3 separate regions of the Homo sapiens genome follow, and regions 1 and 2 are each linked to region 3. Evidence: fine-mapped expression QTL. A gene starts in region 3. Each other region holds a variant in brackets. All regions are shown on one strand. Distances are from middle to middle. Region 1 overlaps UBAC2 (UBA domain containing 2). Region 2 has its middle 38 kb from the start of MIR623. Region 3 holds the start of GPR183 (G protein-coupled receptor 183).

What was found. PIP is the estimated chance that this variant, and not a neighbour inherited with it, causes the effect. A credible set is the group of variants that fine-mapping cannot tell apart.
Region 1: its variant is the best candidate, but not a certain one, in a credible set for the expression of GPR183 in whole blood (INTERVAL, PIP 0.51).
Region 2: its variant is the best candidate, but not a certain one, in a credible set for the expression of GPR183 in whole blood (INTERVAL, PIP 0.61).

The regions. Positions count from the first base shown.
Region 1 is chr13:99,372,641-99,380,707 of GRCh38, forward strand. All of the region lies in intron 8 of UBAC2 (UBA domain containing 2), which reads left to right. It also overlaps the pseudogene HMGB3P4. Among named protein-coding and RNA genes, the nearest start is that of MIR623, 21 kb to the left of the region's middle. RefSeq lists an enhancer at 3,168-3,237. The variant CTT/C (reference allele first, on the strand shown) is at 3,161.
Region 2 is chr13:99,389,887-99,397,953 of GRCh38, forward strand. No RefSeq gene overlaps it. Among named protein-coding and RNA genes, the nearest start is that of MIR623, 38 kb to the left of the region's middle. The variant T/C (reference allele first, on the strand shown) is at 4,605.
Region 3 is chr13:99,303,314-99,311,380 of GRCh38, forward strand. It overlaps GPR183 (G protein-coupled receptor 183), which reads right to left and starts at 4,086. Exons shown (of 2, transcript NM_004951.5): 1 at 4,027-4,086. All of the region lies in intron 4 of UBAC2 (UBA domain containing 2), which reads left to right. RefSeq lists enhancers at 185-733, 734-1,280.

The DNA.
Region 1 (8,067 bases), 69 kb after region 3:
GTGGCAAGAAGGTCCTGCCAGGGTTGCCCAGAGAAAGGTAGACAAGAAAGAGGAGGAGGAGGAAGAAGAAGATAAATAGAAACTGTTTGTCAACAACAACAGCAAAAATGCCAAGCCAAAGACCACTTGATAAAACTCCTTCGAGTAATCAAATACGCTCAATGTCTGCTATCTTAGAAATAAGTGTATCCAGGCCGGGCGCGGTGGCCCACACCTGTGATCCCAGCACTTTGGGAGGCTGAGGCGGACGGATCACGAGGTCAGGAGATCGAGACCATCCCGGCTAGCATGGTGAAACCCTGTCCCTACTAAAAAATAAAAAAATAAAAATTAGCCGGGCATGGTGACGGGCGCCTGTAGTCCCACCTACTTGGGAGGCTGAGGACAGGAGAATGGTGTGAACCCGAGAGGCAGAGCTTGCAGTGAGCTGAGATCACGCCACTGCACTCCAGCCTGGGTGACAGAGCAAGACTCTGTCTCAAAATAATAATAATAAGTATATCCATTATTCCATCTCTCTCTTTTTTATTGTTTTTTTTTTTTTTTTTAAACAGGTATCTTTATACTACTATGACCCATACTCAAAATTAACAAATGATTAAATTTTTCTCATATTTGCTTCTGATTTTTTTAAAACCAAAGGGGGAAAAACTCATCAAGTGTATCTCTTCTGACCCTCCCAAAGCTTAGAAAATGACTGTTAGGTAAAATCAGACAAGAAAGTTAAATAAGACTAGACCAAAGCTGGGATTTAACAAAAGGAAGATGAGCAAATTTCAGCTTCCTCTCTTCGATTCATGTCTTTCTTTCCTTTAGCTGACAGTGACCAGCTGTCTGCTCTGCACCGGGGCTAAGCGCTGTGCTGAATTCTGAAAACACTAAGATGGATAAGGCGGAATGTCCTGCCCTGAGGAGCTGTGAGCCCAGGGCAGGGAAACAGGTGGACAAAGAGCTTGTGGAAGTGTTCGGGTGCTGCTGAGGCCAAGAAAGGCCGTCAGGGCAGTGGTGTTGCAGAGGAGGGGCCTGAAGACAAGTACATGGGAGGTGGGGAGCCACGGATGGGTGGGCTGGAGTAGAGGGGACTGGAGGGCCGGGGCACTTCTTGGGATTCTAGAAGCTGGACAGAAAGGAGGCCAGACAGGCTCGCCAAGGGTCTGATGTGTGGCATGTGGTTATACTCTAGACACCAAGGAACCATGCGGGATCTTACACAAGAAACACCATCATTGGGTTTCCCAAGAGGATGGACTGGACACAGAGGAGGGGGCAGGTTATAATCTTATAATTTTCTCTATCCAGGCCCAGGAAACATGGTGCAACTGCCCAGACAAGAGATGTTACCATTTGGTGCATTAATATTAATAATACATTTATAATGCATGTCAAACGACAGAATTACAGCAAATTTAGTGACAGATCTATTTGGCTTTTATTTGCAACTTATGAATTAGTGCAGCCTCCATTCTACAAAACAGAATGTGAGCTCCCGCCAGGCAGTACTGGAACAGTGCATTTTGTAAGAAGGAAACAGAGCAATAGAAAAATAACTGATAGGTTAACATTGAGTTACTTCAGGTTGCTTTTTTTTTAAGGGTTAAAGCAGAGGGGAGTTCCTTATTATGCTGACTTGTGTAGTCTGGGATCTCCTATTTTTAGAAAAAGCAGGTCTTCTTGTTTTGGGATCTGTCTGCTTCCTTAAAGTTTCAATTTGATTGTGTGGCATTTAGCATGAGTGACTCCATTTAGTTTGGTCTTCTGGTTTGTTGGAGCCCAAAACAATGGCGTCCCATAATTTTGGTCAATTCACATGACACGTCGTGTGGATTCTGTTTATGTCTCTGAGATATCCATTAGCCCAAGTAGAGAGAATGGCTTTAAACCCACAAGGTGCTTTCACTCTTAGCTGATAAATAGCAAAATGTATTTAGTATTAGAGAATCTAAATCTTAATGAGGCTGTCTCCTCTCTTCTCATCTCAGGAATCCTTACCACTGTCTCCAGAAAACCCACCGAAACTCCTAAAATGCTCACCTTCTGAAAGCAGGGCTCTAATATTTATTGGTTTTGAGACACATCTCGTGCTTCTGCTCTGAGTAGCCAAGCATGGCAGCACATTGGGTATTGGGTTAGCCTCCCATGGCGTCTGGTCTCCCTGTGGACAGCGAGCTTCCTGAGGGCTGGGGCCATGTCTGCCTTGTTTGCTACCCTATGAAAAGCCTGATACACACAGGTGCCCCAGCATCGGTCGGAGAAGGGTTGAACACGAAGGTGTGGCCAGTAAACTTCCCTTTCAGAACTCTTGTTTTCACATAAAAAATGTGCTAGAGAGTGGTATTATGCCAGGTTTTTCCATTGCTTGCTCTAGTAGATTGGAAATACGTTTTCTAACAAGATCCCAAAGTTAGATGTGTTACAATGAAATACTAGATGGTACTCAAATAGTAACCAACTTTTGTGGGGTGTCTCATTCTGCTGGGTGCTCTGAGAGATGTACACAAAGGAGCTCAGCCAGCCTTAACTAAAGACCTGCTCCATACAAGACCCTGACGAGGCTCTAGACACAGTTGGTCTCAGAGCAGCCCAGAACGCTGGCAGGGTCTGTAATAACCAGAAACCTGAGTTCAACCAAGAGATGTGAAAGGAGGGGGGATCTGCAGTTCTCCCAAGGAAGAGAGTGGTCAGACAGGGAGAGGGGGGTGGGGGCTGCACTGCCTTGCAAGGGTCTCGGCCATGCGTCAGCATGGGGGTGGGCAGCTGGTGCCAACAGGTAACCGGTGCCAGTTGCTATGACAGCAGTGGGCGAGGCAGGCCCAGCACATCTGGGCTCCCCCAACAGGGTGTGCATGCTACCCTGCACCCAGTGTGAGCTCAGGATCGGGTGGGGGCCGTCTTCAGGTGGGCATCGCTTTCTGCAAGCGTCAGAATATGGGAAGTAAAAACCCAAAAAAAACATTTGTTTTTGACGCACTTAGCTAAAAGGGAAGTTAAAGAAAACCACACTCTAGTTTGAATAAACCAAAAGGAGTCTTTCACTGAGGGGAGTTGCTAGAAATCTCATTGGAATGAATGTCCCATTTTACTTATGTCAAAGAGGAGTTGAATTGCAAGTAAAATACCAAAGTGGGATTTCATTTATTTTCTTTTCTCTTTTCCTTTTTCC[CTT/C]TTTTTTTTTTTTTTTTTTGAGACATGGTCTTGCTCTGTATCCCAAGCTGGAGTGCAGTGGTGCTATCATGGCTCACCGCAACCTCGACCTCCTGGGTTCAAGCCATCCTCCCAACTCTGCCTCCTGAGTAACTGGGACTACAGGCACATGCCACCAAGCCCAGCTAATTTTTTTTTTTTTTTTTTTTGGTAGAGACAAGGGTTGCCCAGGCTGGCATTTTCTTAAATGAGAATTATCTTGAGGTAGTAGGCACACACATCCCAATCATAGATGTTTAAAAATAAAAAATAAGGAAAGAGAAACTGGTACAGATTTATTTCCATCTCTAGGGTGTTTTCCTCATTCAGTGGGTTCTCTGAAAAGCACATTATTAGGGAATGTATTCCATCTTGCTCTCCTTTGGAACATTGTCAGGTGACAGTGACAGTGCTCTTGTGGCAACGCCTATTTCTGTCATGCTCCCCTGCCTTGGTCAGCCAGCCATGTGGAAGTGTCACACCAGGGCTGGTGAAGGGCTGCTGACGCCTGTGGTTCAGAAGCTCGTGACGAAAGGCAACTGATGGAGTCACACCTTGCTCCACTGGGGCACCCTGGACACCTCCAAGAGGGTCTTCATCCCTGTGGGGGCTCTGGTGGGGCACCCTGGACACCTCCAGAGTGGGTCTTCATCCCCGTGAGGGCGGAGCTGGAGTTTGCCATTGCCACAGCACCAGCTGCACCTTGGTGTCCTCTGAGTAGCCTTATCTCTGCTCCTCACCTCTGGAAGTCAGGTTTCCTGTTACGGAAAGCAGGCTCTGGATGTTACATTTGGGGAATGTTAGTGTCTAGAAATAAGAAATAAGTAGATGTGGAAGACAGGAAAGCAAAGCATGCTGGAGGCGAACCCAACTAGAGCTGGCTTCTCAATGAAGTTAGAGGAAGGAATCATTTCGATTTGGGGGCTAGAAACCAAGCTGCACTCTAATCTGATATTTTGTGGTGAGGATTTTTAGGCAGAAACTTCTTGTGATGCCTGAGCAGGAGGAAGGTACTCGCTGTGCTCTGAGATGGAGAGGGAATGTTGAAAGAACACCTTTTTAGAAAATTTCTTTGAGACATTTTTAAAATTTTCCAGACCAATGAATGACTGCAAGCCCATGAAGCCAACACTGACGAAGTTGCAGTATGCAGCGCCGTGCCTCGCCTCGCCTCGCCTCACCATTGCCTCCACTCACGCCAGAACAAGTGTCTATCCTAGCACAGTCTTTTCCAGAGTCTCAGTGTCCTACCAGCATTCTCATTTTGTCCTCCACATGTTTATTGGTCACTTTTGATCTTCACATTCAGCCTTCTCTAACTGGTGCTGGGCACCGGGTGTGTCAGGCTCTGTGTTGGGGGGAAGCAAGCCAGGCCTGGTGCCAGCCCTCAAGGGAGCTCACCGTCTATGAGGGAGACCAGATCCATGCAAGGCCCTAACCCAGTACCCAACTCATGCAAGTACCTAGTGCCAGTCCTTAGAGCAGAGGAGACCTGTAAACATTCATTCCTGTACTTTAACAACTTGACATCAGGAGATTTTACATTGAAACTTTCTCTTCCTGTGGATGTTAGATCGGATCAGGTGCTCATGGTGAGTTCTGATGCTTCTCATCCCAGTAGCTGGACTACAGAGACAGGAAGCAGCCTGCAGAGAAAATGAAGTAGTCCAGGGTTTCAGTGTGAGTTAATGTGTGTTGTGGCTAAAATGTGGTGCTTTCGATAGGGAGAGAGATGGGCTGACCATCTATAATACCATTATTTATATAGTCATCAGAGTTGTGTATTTGCTAAACTTTATAAATACATAAAGTGTATTTTAGAACAACACAGTCTTTTTGTTAGAATGTTATGCTCACCATTTAAAAAGATTGTTCCTGTCTTTCTGACTTCTTTAGGGCCCACCACACACCTGGCCCCGCTGCCCTCCATAGGAGAATAGTGGTCCTGAGAGGTCATGTTTATTGAGCGCTGGTCATGTGCCCGTCACTGTTCTGGGCTTCTCACATGCATCCCTCTCATCTCCCAAACTGCGAGGAAACAGAGAGTCAGAGCCTGGTCCCCTGCATGTGGTCACACGGGGCCAACTCCAAAGCTCGGGTCTCCCTGCCACCCTGCGCTGGAGTCAGACCTAAGACAGCATGCAGCTTCCCCTGCATTTTTATTTCACGGAAGCATGAACCTGGTTTTCTGTCCCTACAAGTTGAGTATCCCTTATCCAAAATGCATGCTGCTCTAGTCCTTCAGTAAGCCCATCACATATTTTCTCTGTGTCGTCTGTAGACACTTTTTCTGCAGCGTTAGCATCATCTCCATCATCACTGTTGTCACAGTCACCTTGACTCAGAACCATCTCAGCTATTTCACCATGGGTCAGTTAATGAACAGCTGGAGCCCCCTTATCGATATTAAAAACTTCAATATCTGGCTGGGCTCAGTGGCTCATGCCTGTAATTCCAGCAAGTTGGGAGGCCGAGGTGGGCAGATCACTTGAGGTCAGGAGTTCGAGACCAGCCTGGCCAACATAGTGAAACCCCATCTCTACTAAAAACACAAAAATTAGCCAGGCATGGTGGCACATGCCTGTAGTCCCAGCTACTTGGGAGGCTGAGGCAGGAGAATGGCTTGAACCCAGGAGGTGGAGGTTGCAGTGAGCCGAGATCACATCACTGCACTCCAACCTGGGTGACTGAGCAAGACTCTGTCTCAAAAATAAAATAAAAAATAAAAACTTCAATATCCACTTCTTCTGGCTTACTGACAGACTCGAAGGTATATTTTTTACCTGTTAGGAGGTCAGGCATCATTTTATCCTCATTTGACATGTGGAATCCTTCAAAGTCACCACCTTGTTCGTCATCATCACTGAACATAGCACAGGCCAGAGGTTGTGTCAGGCTTGCATAGCTGTGTTCTCAGTCACTGTGTTCCATGCATTGGCAACAGCATGTGTGGCATCCTTCACGCTAAACGCCTGTTGAAAATCTTCCATACCCATTCATTTGTTGCTAGCATGTTGTTCAAGAAGGTACTTTTATATTTATCCTTCATTGATCTAAGAATACCTTGGCCACATGGCTGAATTAATGGAGTCACATTTGGGGAAAAGTACATGGCATAAACATGATTTTTGATGAGATGTCAGCTGGAGGATGAACAGAAAAGTTGTCAAGGTATAACAAAATATTTCAGTCATCATCCAGCCCAGCTTCCCTGCAGTGAGCACAAGCCACAGGTCCAAAATGTTTGTGAGACCAATCAGAAAAGATATCCCTAGTTAAACATGCCTTTTTGTTAGCATAATAATGGTCTGGTAAGAAATTCGCTGCTTGAAAACAGCAAGGACACAAACTTTTGCCTGTCATGCAAGTTTACGCTTATGCATGCCTGCTGCATTAGCACATCCCAGCAAAGTTGTTCTGCCCTTGATGTCCTCAGTTCCTGGAGGGGCTGTCTCATTAGCTGTAGTTGTGTCTTTCTGGAGCAATAAAACCAAAACAGTGATGTTCCATCAGCATTATAGACTTGTTCTGGCATCAGATTTTTGTCAGCAATGACCTTGGCAAACTCACCAATGAATTTCTTTGCTGCTTCATGATGCTTTGTCACCACATTAAAAAATTTGGTTTCATGTTTTTTCTTAAATTTCTGCAGCCAACATGTTGAATATTCATAGTTCCTTTTCATTTTCAGTTCCTCATCCTGATAGATCCTTGCTTGTTTCCTGACCCACATAGCATTAAGTGGCAGGTGTTCACTGCAACACCAAGGGATCCATCCTCGGTACATGATCAGGATCTTCATTTTTAGCTTTATGCAGTGTTTCTCTATTTTTCATTAATTTCTGTTTATCACTTTTAGCACAGAACTTCAACAGTTTATCCTTCTGTTTCTTCAGATCCTATATGGTGGTCACTCCAACACCATACTCTCCTGTAAGACGTTTCACACTTACACTGCTCTCCACTTTCTCCAACAGCTTGACTTTCTGTGCTATAGATAAACATAAATCTTTTTCTTATCACTGTTACCCAGAGGGTATCTGCACACCTTTTAGATATTTTAACAACATTTTTATAACACAGAGCAGAAAGTAAGCAAAAAAGCACAGTGAGTGACGCACGTGGGTTTTGGCCCCATGCAGGTCATTGTGGGGAACCTGCCCACTGGCATGTGCTTGCGTGGGGGAGTCGGGGCATGTGCAGAAAAGGCATGTCACAGCTGAAGGAGGGTGAGAGGGTCTCTTTTCCCTTGGAGACACTGAATAAACTACATGTTGTGGCCTGCATTTTGACTGCAGCCCATCACATGAGGTCAGGTGTGGAACTTGCCATTTGTACTGCCATGTTGGTACTCAAAAAGTTTCAAATTCTGGAGCATTTTCGATTTTGAATTTTCAGATTAGGAATGCTTAACGTGTGTTTTGCTTACCTGACTGCACGTCTGCGCAGGCCTCAATTTCGTCTTTCTGTAATTTGAGCACAGGAGTTGATGCTTCACATGCCGAGTAAGCTTTCCCAGGAGAGACCGTAATGAGATGTGTGGGGACTGGGCGTGCTGGGCTTCTCTGAGCAGAGGAATAGTGAGAGCCACAGCAGTAATTGTTAGTGTCCACCAAAGAGCCCTACAGACAACTGTTCTCTGTGCTGCTAGTTTTTGCTCCAGTTCTTACTGTCTATATGGTGAACCTCTGAAACTACATAAAGAAAGGACAGCAGGGGCCACTTGGCTAACTTGCACGGCTGTGAGCACTGCACTGCACCCCTCCACTGGGGAGTATTGGGTAAGCACCCATCGGAACACCTATCCCCTGACCCTTCTCGTCCTTGCTGGCTGGTTGTCATCGCATACCCAAGCCCAAGCATGCAGTTTCAGTTTGCCATGGATGT
Region 2 (8,067 bases), 87 kb after region 3:
GGGGCTCGCAGGTTTGTAGAATGTTGGAACTAGAGAGTGTTTATCTGGTGTAGCCCACCTCTTCAGGTGAGGAGACAGATCAGAGAAGGTGCCAGGGTAACTTGGCCGGGATCCCGAGGGCCATGATGGACTTGAGGCAAAGTCAGCTCCCTGGGCCAGGCCTGTCCTCAGCCCTCCCCTGGCTGCTTCGGGCCTCCCCTCAACCTGGGCAGTGGGAGGAGAGCAAGAAGGTCCCCAGGGTTGGCCCTCAAATTCCTCTTGGGACTGTGCTGCTCCCTCATCCCACCCACGCCATGCCCAGCAGCACCCATGGCTCCTCTCAGGCCAGCCCTCCTTGCTGTCTGCGCAAGAAGGGAACCCAGAGGGATGTGGCAGCGAAACTCAGGCCCGATTCTCCCCTGGGGCCAGAGTTTTCTTCCAAACCCACTACATCTGCCTGAAGCCATGTCCACCTGGCTGTCACCACAGACAGAATGGGAGACTCGGGCCTTGTAATCAAAGGTGCTCTCCTGCCACTGAGGAAGGATGGTGGCCCCGTGACATGCTAAAGTGGGCTGGTGGTGACACAGTGTCTCCTGAGATTCAACTCACCTTGAAGACAATTCGCCTTCGCAAATGTGGCCAGGTGGAGCCTCAGCAGAAAGCTGGGTTTGCTGTTGGTTTCTCTCCCCAGATGATGTACAGCCATGGAGCCTCTGCACACCACTTTGCATCCACCAAAGACAGACCCAGGCCCAGTGAAGCATGGAGACTGCGGATGTCAGGGAAGGCCTGGGAGAGCTTCCCTCGCTTCCATCCAGTGTGTTCACCGGCCCACTGTAAAGGGAGGAGTTGCCAGAGGCTCTGGGAACACCAAAGGCGAGGGCCCTGGGAGGTGGTGGCAACGGGCCCCAGGGACTGGCTTCTTGCTCCTTGGGGGCCCAGGGAAGCCACTTCTTCCCCTTCCGATCAGCCCTGCCGCATCAGAGACGGCTCTGCTCCCGGGTGGGAGAAGCTCCCGCCATCCTCTGCCTTCCCCTGCCCCTAGACAATCATATAGGAGCCCACGTAATGGACTTTTCTGTTCAACAAGGCTTTCGGTGCTTCACGGGGCCATAGCCAGTTTTGCTCTTTTGCTATCTTGGCAGTTCTGTGTACGGGGTGCCTATCATACAATGCTAATAGGAGGTTAAACAGAAGCACCATATTATATCCGGAAGCTGATCAGCCTAGAACTATCGATGCAGATTTTGTAAAACCCACATTCATGTAACATATGGCTGACCCCAGTTTTTCATATGAACAAAGCTGTCGGGACCACAGAGATCTTTGGCAAAATAGGCAGTCTCTTTGGAGGGCAGGTTGCCTCCTCTCAGCAGGCAGGTCCTACTGTACTTAAATGTGCACAAAGATGAATGTGATACTAACACTAAGGCCTGTTTAAAGGAGGGGTGCATTTATTTTGCTTAAACATAAAAAGTCTAGCAAATACTTCAAAAAAACCAACCCCCTTAACAGAGTGAGAGCAGCCAAGGCAAACCCTTCTCCAGCCCTGGGGAGACGTGATGAGGCTCCTACTTGGAGATCACCCAAATGCAAACCCAACCGTGGCTGGTTATTTAATTTTTTTTTAATTAAAAAAGAATAAAGCGGCCAAGTGTGGTGGCTCACGCCTGTAATCCCAGCACTTTGGGAGGCCGAGGTGGGTAGATCACTGGAGGTCAGAAGTTCGAGACCAGCCTGACTAACATGGTGAAACTGCATCTCTACTAAAAATACAAAAATTAGCCAGGTGTGGTTGTGGCACCTGTAATCCCAACTACTTGAGAGGCTGAGGCAGGAGAATTGCTTGAACCCAGGAGGCAGATGTTGCAGATAGCGCCACTGCACTCCAGCCTGGGCGACAGAGCGAGACTCTGTCTCAAAAAAAAGAATAAAGCCAAGCACTCACTCCTAGCCTGTCTTATTCCTGATTATGTGAATGGCCATTTCAAATTACGAAATTTCTAAATTCAGAGCTCAGAACTACTTCAAAATGATAAAAGCAAATCAGCATACAGTTGCCTTGGGGGCAGGGGAAGACAGTGGGTAGGGCTGGGGCAGGGCACCCCAGGGCTTCAGAAGCTCCAGTAGTTTGAATTTCTGAAACTGGGTGGAGGTACAGGGTGTCTGTTTTACTGGTTTTTAAATGTCCTACATACCTCCTTTATGTACTCTTCTGTATTATGACGTATTCAATCAAAAGTTGAAATTCTCCAAAGATATATTCCCTCCCCTCTTTTGATTATTTGCCAACTTCTTCCAGAGATTCCTATACACTTGTGCACCCCTTCTCCCCGGGAGAGCTCCAGAACCCTGGAGCTGGGTGGACGGGGTGTAGACCAGGCAGCGTGGTGCAAGGGATTCCAGCCTGGAGCTTGAGCACCGAGAGTCGGGGAGACTCCCGTCTGGGGGAGCCTCTGACACCACTCCTCTCTTCTCATGTGAAGGCTCTGTTTCCAGCCCCTGCTGCGGCCTGGGAGAGGGCACAGCTTTTCCTCGGTGTTTACCCACGGATTCTCACACTTTCCAGATGATTCCTGTTTGCTCCCAAACCTTATCCCTCCTGTTCAAGGTTTCTACCTCGAGGGGAGAAGTAAGGACACTGCGGCTGACCGTCACCCAATAGGCCACAGAGATGAATGAAGAGAAAGGGGCAGCCTTCACTTTCCAGACCTCTTATAATCCAGCCATCTAATGCACTGGGACTCTAGGCAGAGCCCCTCCTGTCCCCCGAGGCTGTGTGGTTTGGATGTCAGGGCCTTCCTGTAAGATGGGAAGACGCCCTGCTCAGCTCCACCCGCCTGGAGAGCTCCCATGGGTGCGAGGGAGATGGGGAGTGCGGCTCTGTTTCCTAAACTGTTGAATGCTGAGTTCGTGGCATATTCTTAGTACCACTGGAAATACCAACAAATAATAAGCTAGGGTCTGATTTTGAAAGTGAATAATAGAGATTTTGAAATACCTTTAATTGGCTGGCCTTGGGAAATGTTCCTGCCAAGCAGGAAAAGATTCAGGAGGACAGAGGCGCCGCCCTCCCCAGGCACTTGCCAGCGGTGCAATTGTCTCTGCGCCCACCACCTCCTCTCCCCTGAAAAAAGGCTTGTGTTTAAAAGGGGTGCTTCAGGAGCCCTCTGTCCATCATCTCCTCCTTCCTCCTCTGAATCTCCCCCTTTGCCCTTATTACTGACACTTCCCTAGCAATTTCTCTGGTTACAAAAAAAAAAAAAAAAGAAAAGAAAAAGGACAATGATATGCTTTGGCTTTGTCCCCACCTAAATCTCATCTTGAAAATTATAATCCCCGGGCAGGGTGTGGTGGCTCACACCTGTAATCCCAGCACTTTGGGAGGCCAAGCTGCGCAGATCAGCTGAGGTCAGGAGTTCGAGACCAGCCTGACCAACATAGAGAAACCCCATCTCTACTAAAACTACAAAATTAGCCAGGCATGGTGGTGCATGCCTATAATCCCAGCTACTTGGGAGGCTGAGGCAAGAGAATCACTTGAACCCGGGAGGCGGAGGTTGTGGTGAGCCGAGATCACGCCATTGCACTCCAGCCTGGGCAAGAAGAGCAAAACTCCATCTCAAAAAAAAAAAAAGAAAGAAAGAAAATTGTAATCCCCATAATCCCCATGTGTCTAGGGAGAGACCTGGTGGGAGGTGACCGGATCATGGGGGCGGTTCCCCCATGCTGTTCTCATGATAGTGAGTTCTCACAAGAGCTAATGGTTTTATAAGGGGCTCTTCCCCCTTCGCTCCTCACTCCTCTCTCCTGCTGCCTTGTGAAGAAGGTGCCTGCTTCCCCTTCACTTTCTGTCATGATTGTAAGTTTCCTGAGGCCTCCCAGCCATGCAGAACTGTGAGTCAATTACACCTCTTTCCTTTATTAATTACCCAGTCTAGGGTATTTCTTTAACGACAAATTCCTTGAAACAAGTTGTGACATGCACTGTCCCCATTCTCTCAGCTCCCGAACACCTGGCCTCCATCCTCAATGGCCAGTTTTTGGCTGGATGCTATGGCCCGCTCTCGGGCTGCTGGTAACCCCCTCGGCTCCATGGCTGGAGCAGCGGCCTCCTGTCCTGGCTCCCACACCACCGCCTCTCTGTCTCTCCCGCAGCTTCCTCAGCCTCTTCCCTCCCCATGAATGTTGGTGCTCCTGGGTCCTTTCTAGCCCTCCGTGTTAGCCAGGGCTTTTTACTCTCTGCATTCCAATGCTTTCACATCTTGGGGCCTTGCTGACCCTGGAGAGACAAACCCTGTACCCCGGGGCCAGCCAATCCCTAGAGACAGAAAAAGGCCTGAAGGGAGCACACTGTTCAGAGGCAAGGCAGCCAACCCAATGCCTGCACCCCCGACCTCCACCACCTGTCTGGGGCTCTCACACTCCAGGCCACTATGCCCCTGCCCTTGTCAAGCAGTACCAGGTACCAGGCCCCTAAGGACAGCCCCTCTGCCCCAGAGCCTGCATGCCCCCCTCCCGTTGATGCTTCTCGTGGAAACCACATTCAAGGTCTTGCCCACGCTCTCCTGACCCTCCCTCTGCCTGCTGACCAGCCCTGGTTCTCCCCTGGCTGGCCTGGG[T/C]GGCAGAGTGTGCCCCTCTCCTTGGGAGCTGTGAGTAACGAACTGTCTTTTCAATGGTGCTCGGCCGCTGATCTGTTGGCCTCATCATACCTGAGAAACAATAAAGCCTACAGTTTAGAGAAGCCCCTCAACTCTCCCTGGGACTGTCGTCCACCTCACCCCTCCCAAACCCGTACCCTCACCCTAAATCGCTCTTCCAGACTGCACACCTCGTATGTCCCACTTTATACTGGACACCTCCATGTGCCTGTCCTAGGGCTCCTAAGCCCACGTCTTCCACCCTCAAACTTCATCTGACCCCACGCTCCCTATCTCAGGAAGTGACAGCACCCTCAATCCAGTCCCCCAACCCCAAACTCGGGAGCTCTCCCAGAGTTTCCCTAACCCCTTCTCCGACGTCAGTCTCCACCCAGCACCTAACACACTTCACATGTTACGTTGTAATTGTCTGATTCTGTATGTCCCCTGCTGGCCTACCTGGGCCATGAGGCTGGAGACCACGTCTACCCACTGTGTCCCCAACACCCAGAACCACACGTGGTGAATGTGGGAATGAATGTGGAAGATGAGTATTGGCCTAGAGACAAAATCATAAATTACTAGAGATGAAGAAGGTCCCCGCCCTGCCCTTGGTGCACGCATCCTCTCCCATGTCTCAGAGAGCAGTCCTTTATACGCGGGGATTGAGCTGAGTCAGCCTGGGACTGAAGTTCTGGCAATGTTCTACCTTGGTCAATTTATAGCATTTTACACCTTATTGCAACCTACCCAAGAGGCTTATATTAGGTGTTACTGCACACACACACACACACACACACACACACACGGGCTCCTCACCCCCTGAGACCAGCTCCCCCGCTGCCTGTCCTGCTAATCACAGAGCTCAGCAGACCATGTGTCAAGACTCCTTAGGATCCACAGATCCAAGCCTCAGAAGGTGAAGTTGGCCTTTGGCATTAGAAAATGTAACTTCCCAGATTTCTACAATTATAGTGGAACAGGGCGCCCATACCATGAGGCACTCGCGTTGCCTGAGGTGTGGTCTGACCCATGTGCTATAGGGTTGCTGTGCCCTCAGGTGGCACGGCCTGCCCCAAGCCTGGCTGCCCACAACCATCACAGGCCAGGGGAACTTCTTAGTCTCTGTGCCATCCCGTATGCTGTCACTTGGCGAAGTGAGAACCGCAGTGAAAGCTGGACAGTGGTTACCTGCGGTGTGCAGCAGTGCCCAGGAAGTGGGACTCTCGGTGGAAATGTGCTTTTTGGAGAAAGCCAAAAGCCCATCGGAATATGTGAGCATCTACAAATATGATGTACGAAACTTTCTGTTCTTCCTCCTTAAAATGTCAAGTGATTACAATTCTTAGGTGTCATTACACCATCCTCCAGCCAGTGGTGAAATCCTTGGACATTCTGGTTGGGTGGTCACTGTCCGTCCCCAGGGAACAGGGTTCAAGGCCTCATTACTGTAGAGCAATGTAGAGCCCTGGCTGACAGGGCTTCTCCTGGCCTGTGCCCTGCCTCTGTCCTGATCCTGTGGGCTGAGGAAACCCTTAGAAGTGGTCCCTCTCATGCTTCCATTTTGACACGAGATTATTTTGATAGGGTCTGAAAAACAAAGCATACAAGTTAAACTTTTTTTTTTTAAAGCAACTAATGTTTAAAAGAGACCCCTCTCATTCCTTCTCCAAGCCTCACCTTTGCAGTCGGGCTCTGAGGCAGTGTGTGGGGGCTTGAAGTGGGAGATTAGATGGGACTCAGAGAAAGGGAGAGTGTCTGGAAAGAGGGGTGTTCAGAAATGGGTGGGTGTTGTGGGCTGAATCGAGTCCCCCCAAAAGATATGATGAAGTCCTAACCCCTGGCATCTGTATGTTCTTAAATAGGGTCTTTGTAGATGTAATCAAGCCAAGATGAGGTCATTAAGGTGGGCCTAACCCAACGTGACTGGTGTCCTTATACGAGGAGAGAAACACCAGGTGAAGGCAGAGACAGAGGGGGAGAAGGCCACAGGAAGATGACGGCAGAGGCTGGAGCGATGGATCTGCCAGGTTGGAAACGTCAAAGAGCTCCAGCAAGAACCAGCAGCCTGGGGAGGAATGGTAAGTTCTCCCTAACAGCCCCCAGAAGGAACCAGCCCCACCAGGGCCGTATCTCAGACTTCCAGCCTCCAGAACTGTGGGACAAGAAGTTTCCATTGTGTTTCAGCCTCACAGTTCACAGCACTTTGTTACAGCAGCTCGAACCAACTACCACAGTGGGCCGGAGTCAGGTATTGGCAAAGGTCTTCAAAAAGGGGCCCTGGACCTGGCCTATCAGACTCACTCACATTGTCCCCAAACCCACTTCCCCACCAATCATTCCTATTTTTATTCACATTCCCATAGACATTTGACCTTGAAGTCACCTGTGATGGTTCATTTTGTGTGTCACCTTGGCTAGGCTATGGTGCCCAGCTGTTTGGTCAAACACTGCTGTAAATGTCGTGGGGAAGGTATTATTTAGATGAGGTTAACATTTAAATCAGTAGACTTTGGGTAGAGCTGATTACCCTCCATAAGAGGGGGAAGGTGGGCCTCACCCCACCAGCTGAAGGCATTAAGAGCAAAGACTGAGTTTTCTGGAGAAGAAGCAATTCTACCTCAATCCCACAATATAGAAGTTCTGCTCGAGTCTCCGGCTTGCCTGGCCTCCCTTGTGGATTTCAGATTTGCCAGGTACCACTCCTATGGTGCAAACACACACACACATATGTGTGCGTGTGCCTGTGTGTGTCTGTGTGTGCGTTGTGTGTGTGTCACATTGCTTCTGTTTCTCTGGAGACCTCTCATATATAATCACTCACTTTATTTTTCCAAAAAAAAAACCACAGGCGGGCCTCCTCTCTTGATTTCGCCTTTGAAATGTCTCTTAAATCTCTTCTTTTCTTTAGTGCTCTGGTTCTCAGAATAGGCCACACATCAGAATCACTGGAGACCTTTGGAAAATCCTAACACCAGCCACACCCACAGCAATTACATCACATCTCTGGGGATGGGACCCAAGTGGGCATCAGGATTTTTTAAATGTCCCCCGACGATTCTCATGTGCAGCCAAAGTTGAGGACCAACGGTTTGATAAGGAAAGAAAGCCAGGAGGGAAACAGGTCCCGCCACCTCTGAATGTGGCGTCTTCTGAGCCGTCACTGCTCAAACACAACCCCTGGACCAGCAGCATCAGTGTCCCCTGAGAGCTTAGACATGCAGACTCTCAGGCCCCAGCCCAGACTGACTGGAGAAGAAGCTGCATCTTAACAAGACCCCAGGTGATGCCTGTGTCCACATTAAAGCATGAAAGCTTGAAGAGCTTTGTCTAGGACGAACCTAAAGCAATCAGTGTCCCAGGGCAGGCTGCCATAGATGAGTTCTGTGGAAACCCAGGGGTGCAGGGGGGCTGACCATGGGTCACGCTGATCTTGTCATGAGCT
Region 3 (8,067 bases):
GCTTCATAGACGCGCTCCTTGGAAATGATGGAAAGGTGCTTGAGCACGGGAATTCTTTGGTTGAACACCCACTTGCACATTTGGGGTTTCACATATTCTAGTTATTTTCTTTCACCTTTCACTGGTAAAAGCCACCTATGTGGCTTTTGGTGGCTTTTATATTGAAAAGTATGGAAGTTATTGAAGATGAAGATGACATATGTTTAGAGAACTAAGAAACTAAGAATCCCACCATAATACTCATTTTAGTGTAAGAAAGATATTCTGTGTTTGTATCTGGCATGATTTGTAGGATGCAGCATGTGGGAAAACTGCATAATATAAAAAGGCTCTTTATAATGAAGCTCTGTGTCTATAATATTTCTCCTCTGAGTCCTGAATGTTTCTGGAAATAATATGTACCTTTTCTCTTTCAAGTTCAAGGAGTTTCAATTTTGTTTTTGTCTCTTATCAGATGGAAATTAGGGAGGAACATTAAATATCATTATTTTATGGATAAACTGAATTCCAGGTCAACTCGGTCATTCGCTCAGGGATCTTACTGTGGTACTCAAGGCAGGGGTCGTGAAGGCGCCCAGGACTCCGTGTTCTCCCTCACCTGCTGCCTCTGGTCAGCGAGCAGTCCCTGTGCCTCAGCCTTGTGCTCTGCTGCACATCCGTGTCTGTCTGTCTGCCTGTTGTGTGCCATTCCCGCCCTTCTGCCCGCAGCCACGGCAGCAGCTTCCCGCCAGGCTCTCAAACGGGGCCCATCCAACCCCAGGCAAACCACAAGCTCTGTGTCATGACACACAAGTTCCCTCATGATCTGAGCTCCATTCCTTCTTCAGGAGGGTTGCTGGTCAGCTTCCCCTGATCGTGGCCTGGCTCCAGGCATGCAAAATTACTTAGAACCTTTGGATATCCCACGTTCCCTCACAACTCTGTGCCCGGTAACATTCTTCCCTCTGTTTGATGTCCTCTGGCCCCTATCCTGTATCCTTAGCTCTTACTTTCCTTCAAGCCTTAGTTCTAAGTATCCCAGGAGCATTCCTGTTCTCCATCCTCTGAAAGGCAGTGTGGGTGTATTTGTGAGAGTGCTGTGCTCTGTCATAGTGTCTGCATCATTGATTTTCTTCCCTGTCTCCCATGAGCCTGTGAAGTACTGTGAGTGGGGACCCTATGGTGTTAATTTCTTGTATCTCTAGGTGATGTATGATCGATATTCAATAAATACCCATTAGTTAAAGAATAGCAACATTGCAGCTTTCTTAATCCTTAATGAAAGGTTCTTTATTACACCCCAGTAAGCCCTTGATGAATAATAATCAATTAAAATTACTAAGCAGAGACTGTGTTCCAGGCACTGCCCTGGGCACTCTATGTGTGTTTACTCATTGAATCCTCTCAGAACTTTCACAAGTCCATTGACAGAAGGTGAAACGGAGGCACCAGGGCACTTAAGTGACCAAAGACCTAGCTGTTAAATGTTAGGATTCAGACCCAGGCAGTTTGGCTTCAGAAGTCACATTCAGTACAATACATTTTATCTCCTATTTCCGACGTGATCTGCTATTATGGGTAGAAAACAAGTAAAATAGGAAGGCATCTCAAAACCTTAACGTACACTAACTCATACCTATCTGAACAAGAGAGACTAGGAGAACTGGGGGAAGGGAATGGGAGCAGGGAGGAAGAGATGTTGATTCAAATGAAGGAGTTTATTAGTTTATTTGTAGCATATTTTAAAGTAAGTAAAGGTTTTATAAATGGATTTAGAGTACTGTTTTAACAGTATTTTAATAATAAAACAATTTAGACTGAAATTTCGATTGAAAAAAGATGGTGAATATCTAGAATAGGCTTTTATGCTGTTAATTGATTTTTAAACTACTTTTTAGATATTTGCAGAGATTTAACAAAATATTTTTATTCTTCTCTTTGGGCTTCCAAAACACCACAGCCATCTGTGTTACTGTCACAGCTTTCAGAGGATTCTCACATGTGTTATCTCATTTTATACAATGCCCAGACTTCTTGAGAAGGTGATAAACCCCCCAGACTGGAGAACACCACGCGTCCTCTACACAGGCCACGTCCAGGGCTGCCTAACAACTCCAGCAGGTCTTAACCATAGCAGAGAGAAAAGTATCCCTGTAAACGGCTTTATTAGGTGCGAAGCTCTTTTAAATGTAAGCTTCTTGAGGATGATGACTTGATCTCATCCAACATTTTATCCTATAGAATGCTACAGAACCAACCTACAATAGATATCTAGTAAATATCTATAGAATAAATAAATGAATTAAAGTCATATAGAAACCTGAGTTAATATTTATTCCATTAACTGACTGGTCATGGTACTAATTAGCTCTAGGAAGCCAGATGAAAGTAATTTATGCAAGGGATCATTACCATTGTCACTAACGCGATACATAAACATGTGAGTGAACATTTTGTGGAGTAGCATATTCTTTGTGGTTTTATGTCCAAAAAGTGCAGTGAACCCGCAGAGAGAAAACATGCTAAAATATAAGAAGTGTGCAGTCCTACCAGTAAGCACAGTTAGATGTGTGATCATCCATAGACTCAGGGCCATTTATTTATTTATTTATTTATCTATCGAGACAGAGTCTCGCATGGTCGCCCAGGCTAGAGTGCAGTGGCGCAATCTCGGCTCACTGCAACCTCCGCCTCCCAGGTTCAAGGGATTCTCCTGCCTCACCCTCTTGAGTAGCTGGGATTATAGGTGAGTGCCACCGTGCCTGGCTAACTTTTATATTTTTAGTAGAGATGGGGTTTCACCATGTTGGCCAGGCTGGTCTCGAACTCCTGATCTCAGGTGATCCGCCTGCCTCGGCCTCCCAAAGTGCTGGGATTACAGGAGTGAGCCACCACACCCAGCCTGATTCAGGGTCTTTATGTAAAATATCCATAACATATCTGTTGGATTCACCCTCTGGTACGTCAGTGGCCAGAGAGATGGGAGAAGAATGATGGGAGACAGTTTTTTAGCACTTATAATGAGAGGCAATGTTGTAAGGACTTGGCAGTAGTAATACTCCCCATTTTACAGGTAAAGCAGCTGAAGCCAGATATTAGGTAACTTGTGTGTGGGGGGGCCACACAGCTTGTAAATTTCATTTGATCCTGATTTCAGAGCCCTTGCTCTTATTACACTATATTGTACTCAGAGTGACACCAAAAAAACAAAATACCACGCCCCCCTCCCCCAACACACACACAAACACACATATATAAAACCCTCACTGCCCTTTAAAGGAAGTCTCTTCACAGCTTCTATTTTGCCAAGTTTCTGTTACCACCATTCCCAACCTGGACATAAATGTTGCCAAAGCACTGCATAGAATTCATTGTGATTTTTTCCCCTCAGGCACATAGAAAAGATACGTTTAGTCTAAGTAAACACAAGTATAAACCACACAACAGACTTTTTTTTCACTTATCTAATTAGTAGTATTTAGCATTTAAAAAGCAAAGATTGGTACTCTTTGCTGGCGGGAGGGTAAATTGGTAAAATGTTTTTGTAGACCAAAAAGTACCGTTTTATATCTAAAGCTTTAGAAAATATACCCTTTGCCCTAGGAATTCTACCCCTGAGATTCTATCCTGAGAAATAATCTTATATTTCTAATAATTCCTATAGCATAGGAATATTCTATATTAAAATAACTTTGTTCCTTTTCCTTCATACTAAGTTATCCTGAAATATTGGCATTATTTGCATAGTTTTGCTTGATACTGTCTTTTGTCATTGTGAGTTTATACAGTAGTACATGAAGTGAGCCCTATTTTTTGACAAAGATATTTCTGGTGGACCCATCGCTTTCAGTCAACTTTATAAGAACTAACTAGACCTACCAGTCAGCAGAGAGAGTAAACTTACATTATTAATATAATTTTTGTTAGAAGTGATGGTAGCTTGTTCTTAAATAGATTGTTTTCCTTTTTACCTTTTACCTTAAAACTTAGGCTTTTAAAGTTTTTCTTTAAAAAGTTTGTTGAAAAAGCAAAAGATCTTGTACTTACATATCAGTGACTCGTTCGGGTCTCTGTGTAGTAGCTGTGAGTAGTTGTCCAAACTGAAGTAAGTTTTAACTGTGGCATGTTGTTTTAAGAGAGGCTGTGCAGACCTCCTTTTATGGTGGTGACTTTTTTTTTCTCTGTCACCCTGTGACTGAGCATGTAATGAGCAGTTAGCCTCGTGTACGTGTGTGCACTTTGTGTTTTTTTTTGTTTTAAATGGGAAGTGAAATTTTTTATAGTGATTAAAAAAAACTATCCAAAAGCCCCTTGGAATTTATGAATTGTTGATATCTGTGGAACTTTATAAATTTTTCTGTAAAGGTTTAAGTATCAAAAAATTCTTTGAAAGAGACTGAAGCAATAAACCTTAACCAAAAAAAAGACCAAGTTACTGATGATTTTATATTGATTTTGCATGTAAAAGTATGGGTTTTTAAATGTTTTAAGGAAAATAGTGTCAACTTTGACAGTGCTTTTTACCTGGAAACTTGGTATCAGGGAGTAGTTTACACATTCCACCTTATCCACAGCTTATGAGAAAGAAACAGGTTTCTGTGGCGTGGGGGTGAGTGACAGTCCAGGATGTGGAGTGGACTGGATTAGTCGCCGTTTTCAGTCGAGAGGCTGCCTGAGTCAGAGGCTGTGTGAGTACTTGAATAACAGGGAAACAGTTGAAGGGAGGCCCATTATAGATAAAATCCAGCCTCTTCAGCACAGGGTGAAAGAGACTCATGCCATTCACCTCATAGTTGTAGTTGACTCAGTTTAAACCAACTAACGTGTCTGTCAGAATGCAGTTTATTTGTAGGCTAAATTACCAGATATGTAGCACTCAGATCAGGAGAGGTGATGTTTACACTTAGTCAGGACTGATCTGGCCATTCCCAGCCACTTCTGGGTGCTGCTTTTTACGAAGACATAGATAACACCTGTGGCAGTGAGGGGCCTGGATAGCAGGTCTTAGGAGAACTGATTAAATAAGCTGGGGATGTGTATGCTTTGTAGGCATAGGGTCATTATCCTTATGCTTGTGGAAACTCTCATAGAAAAGTGTTTACATTGCTTGTGTCAGTCTTCCTAACTCCAGAGACTAGCGGGAGGGTCAGTAAGAAGTTACTGGACATAGCTTTTGGATCAAAAGATGAGAGTCATTCCCAAAAGTTGTGATTATTTTGAAAAATGGAATATGCTGTTTCTTATTTAGATGCTTGAGTAAACTTGATGATTTTGAGGGATGATGTAAACAGAATTGAATCATTTGGTAGGAATTTGTAACTCTGTGATCTCAGAAGCCTTTCTGCTCCAGGATTCTGTAAAAATAGTCGAGTAGCTTTTGCCTCCCACAGATGTCATTAGGTTCTTCTAACGTCTAAAGTGCTGTGAGTATGGAGGAACATTGTCAGACACAAGAAAGAGCATCAAGCAAGTCAGCTGAATTCTTTGGGCCGCCACCTCACTGTGTATAAAATAAAGGTATTGAACTAAATGATCTCCAAGGTAATTCCTAGTACAAAAATTCTATGAGGGGGTAATACAGAGATTTTATGACTTGGTGGATAAACATGACATCATATTCTAGAACTAGTTCATTTAAAACTTAGGCTGCAGAGTACTTGAAGAAGACACTGTTGATAAATTTTTCAGTTTGTTGAAAGACCATTCTGGTGGGGTTTTGCCTGTTAATTTTGAAATAGTTATATTAAGTAAAACATTTTTATATAGTGAAGGACTCAGCTAGTTCAAGTAATTCCTCTGACAAACTGGATCTGTCCTCCCAACCTTCTTTTTTTTTTTTGAGACAGAGTCTCGCTCTCACCAGGCTGGAGTGCAGGGGTGTGCTGTCGGCTCACTGCAACCTCCACCTCCCGGCTTCAAGCAATTCTCCTGCCTCAGCCTCCCGAGTAGCTGGGACTACAGGCATATGCCACCATGCCCAGCTAATTTTTGTATTTTTAGTAGAGACAAGGTTTCACCATGTTGGCCAGGATGGTCTCAATCTCTTGACCTCATGATCTGCCTGCATTGGCCTCCCAAAGTGCTGGGATTACAGGTGTGAGCCACCGTGCCCAGCCCCTTTTTTTTGATATCAGAGTAGTCAGGCAGATGAAGAAGAGGTGATGGGGTCATTATCCTGTAAGAGGCCGCTGAAGCTGTATATTAGATCATTTCATGAGCTCACAAACCTTGTTTTTATTGCTGTTGAAAGTTACCAGGGTTTCTTGAGTTGTGATTGTACTGTAAAAGTAGAGTTGGCCTTTACAGTTTTTTTGTTTGTTTGTTTGGAGACAGGGTCTCACTCTGTTGCCCAGGCTGGAGTGCAGTGGCACGATCTTGGCTCACTGCAACCTCTGCCTCCTGGGCTCAAGTGATCCTCCCACCTCAGCTTCCTAAGTAGCTGGGGCTACAGGCACATGCCACCACGCCCAGCTAATTTTTGTATTTTTTTGTGTGTGTGTGTGGAGACAAGGTCTCATTATGTTGCCCAGGCTGGTCTCAAACTCCTGACCTCAAGCCATCTGCCCACCTTGGCTTCCCAAAGTGCTGGGATTACAGGTATGAGCCACCACATCCAGTGACCTTTTCTATAGAAGAAGTGAAATGGACATTTGCAACCTTAACAAGGTGTCTCTGTTATTTTATGTTTTCTATCGAGTGCGATCATGAATATATAGCAGTAGATGCTCAGTAAATATTAGTGATTTTAAAGGATGAATTAGCAATGGCTCACGCCTGTAATCTCAGCAATTCAGAAGGCTGAGGCAGGAGGATTGCCTGATGCCAGGAGTCTGAGATCACTGTGGGGAACACAGCGAGACCCTGTTTCTAAAAAAAGTTTAAAAATTAGCCAGGTGTGGTGGCACACACCAGTAGTCCCTGTTACTCTGGAGGCTGAGGCGAGAAGATTGCTTGAGCCTAGGAATTAGAGGCTACAGTGAGCCGTGATTATGCCACTGCACTCTACTCCAGCCTGGGTGACTGACAGATACCGGTGTCTCAAGAAAAAAAGAAAGGATGGATGAAATGTTTATAACCTGCTTTCTCTTTTCTGTGCTACCAGCCTCATCTGCTTAAGCCAGAAAGGGCTTCCAGAAGGTAGTTCTTCACAGTATGAAAAAGGTCAAACTGAATTACTGTTGACAGTATAGAGAACAGATGTTGTCATAAAATAAGGAAAAGAAAAAGACTGGTCAGTGACTAATAACATTATGGTATTTTGTGAAGTCTGTGTGTGTAGAAATAGCAACGGAAAATTTCTGCAGAACAGCCCATATAATTTTGGTCTGAAATGTGTATGTGTGGCCTAGTATTTAGTCATCATTTAAAATTATACAGTGATTAATATTTTTAAAGGAGTTTTTAAACTTCTATTGGTATGTGAAATGTAAACTGTGGTCATTAAAATTTCTACCAGTATTTTTTTTAGTTTACGTTGAAATGTAACCTCAAAAAAGAACTCTGCTTTAGGTTATTTAGTTATAACATCACTATTTGTACTTTATTACTAAATGTAAACAGAAGAACTTCTATGAATTAAGCGCCTCCAAGGGCATGTTCTGTGGTAAGAGACCTCTGGTGCGATTGGCTCCCCAAATAGGGTTCTATAATCACCAAGAGAGCAGGCCATATTTTGAGCTACATATGAAACCATGTGTTTTAATCCCATTAAAAATGATAAAAAGGAAGGGGGCTTTTTAAAACAAAAGGCAAGTTCTGCTGTATGGTTTTACTGTTTTAAAGGAAAATTCATTTCTTCTGCAAATATTTATTGAAACCTTACTCTATGCCAGGCACAATTCTAGACAGTGGGAATAAAACAAAACAGACCAAAATCCCCATCTATGTGAAGCTTCCATTCTACTTTTAAGATAGATAGGCAGTGATGAGAAGGCTGTAAGTGCTGTGGGGGAGGACAGTCAGGAAGAGAGTAGAGAATGCAGAGGGGGAAGGCTGTGAGGGCGGGAGGTGCGGTTTGAAATGGGGCAGTCAGGGAGGACCTCTCTGAGAAGGTGCTGTCCTGCGGAGCACAGGATCAGAATGGGGATG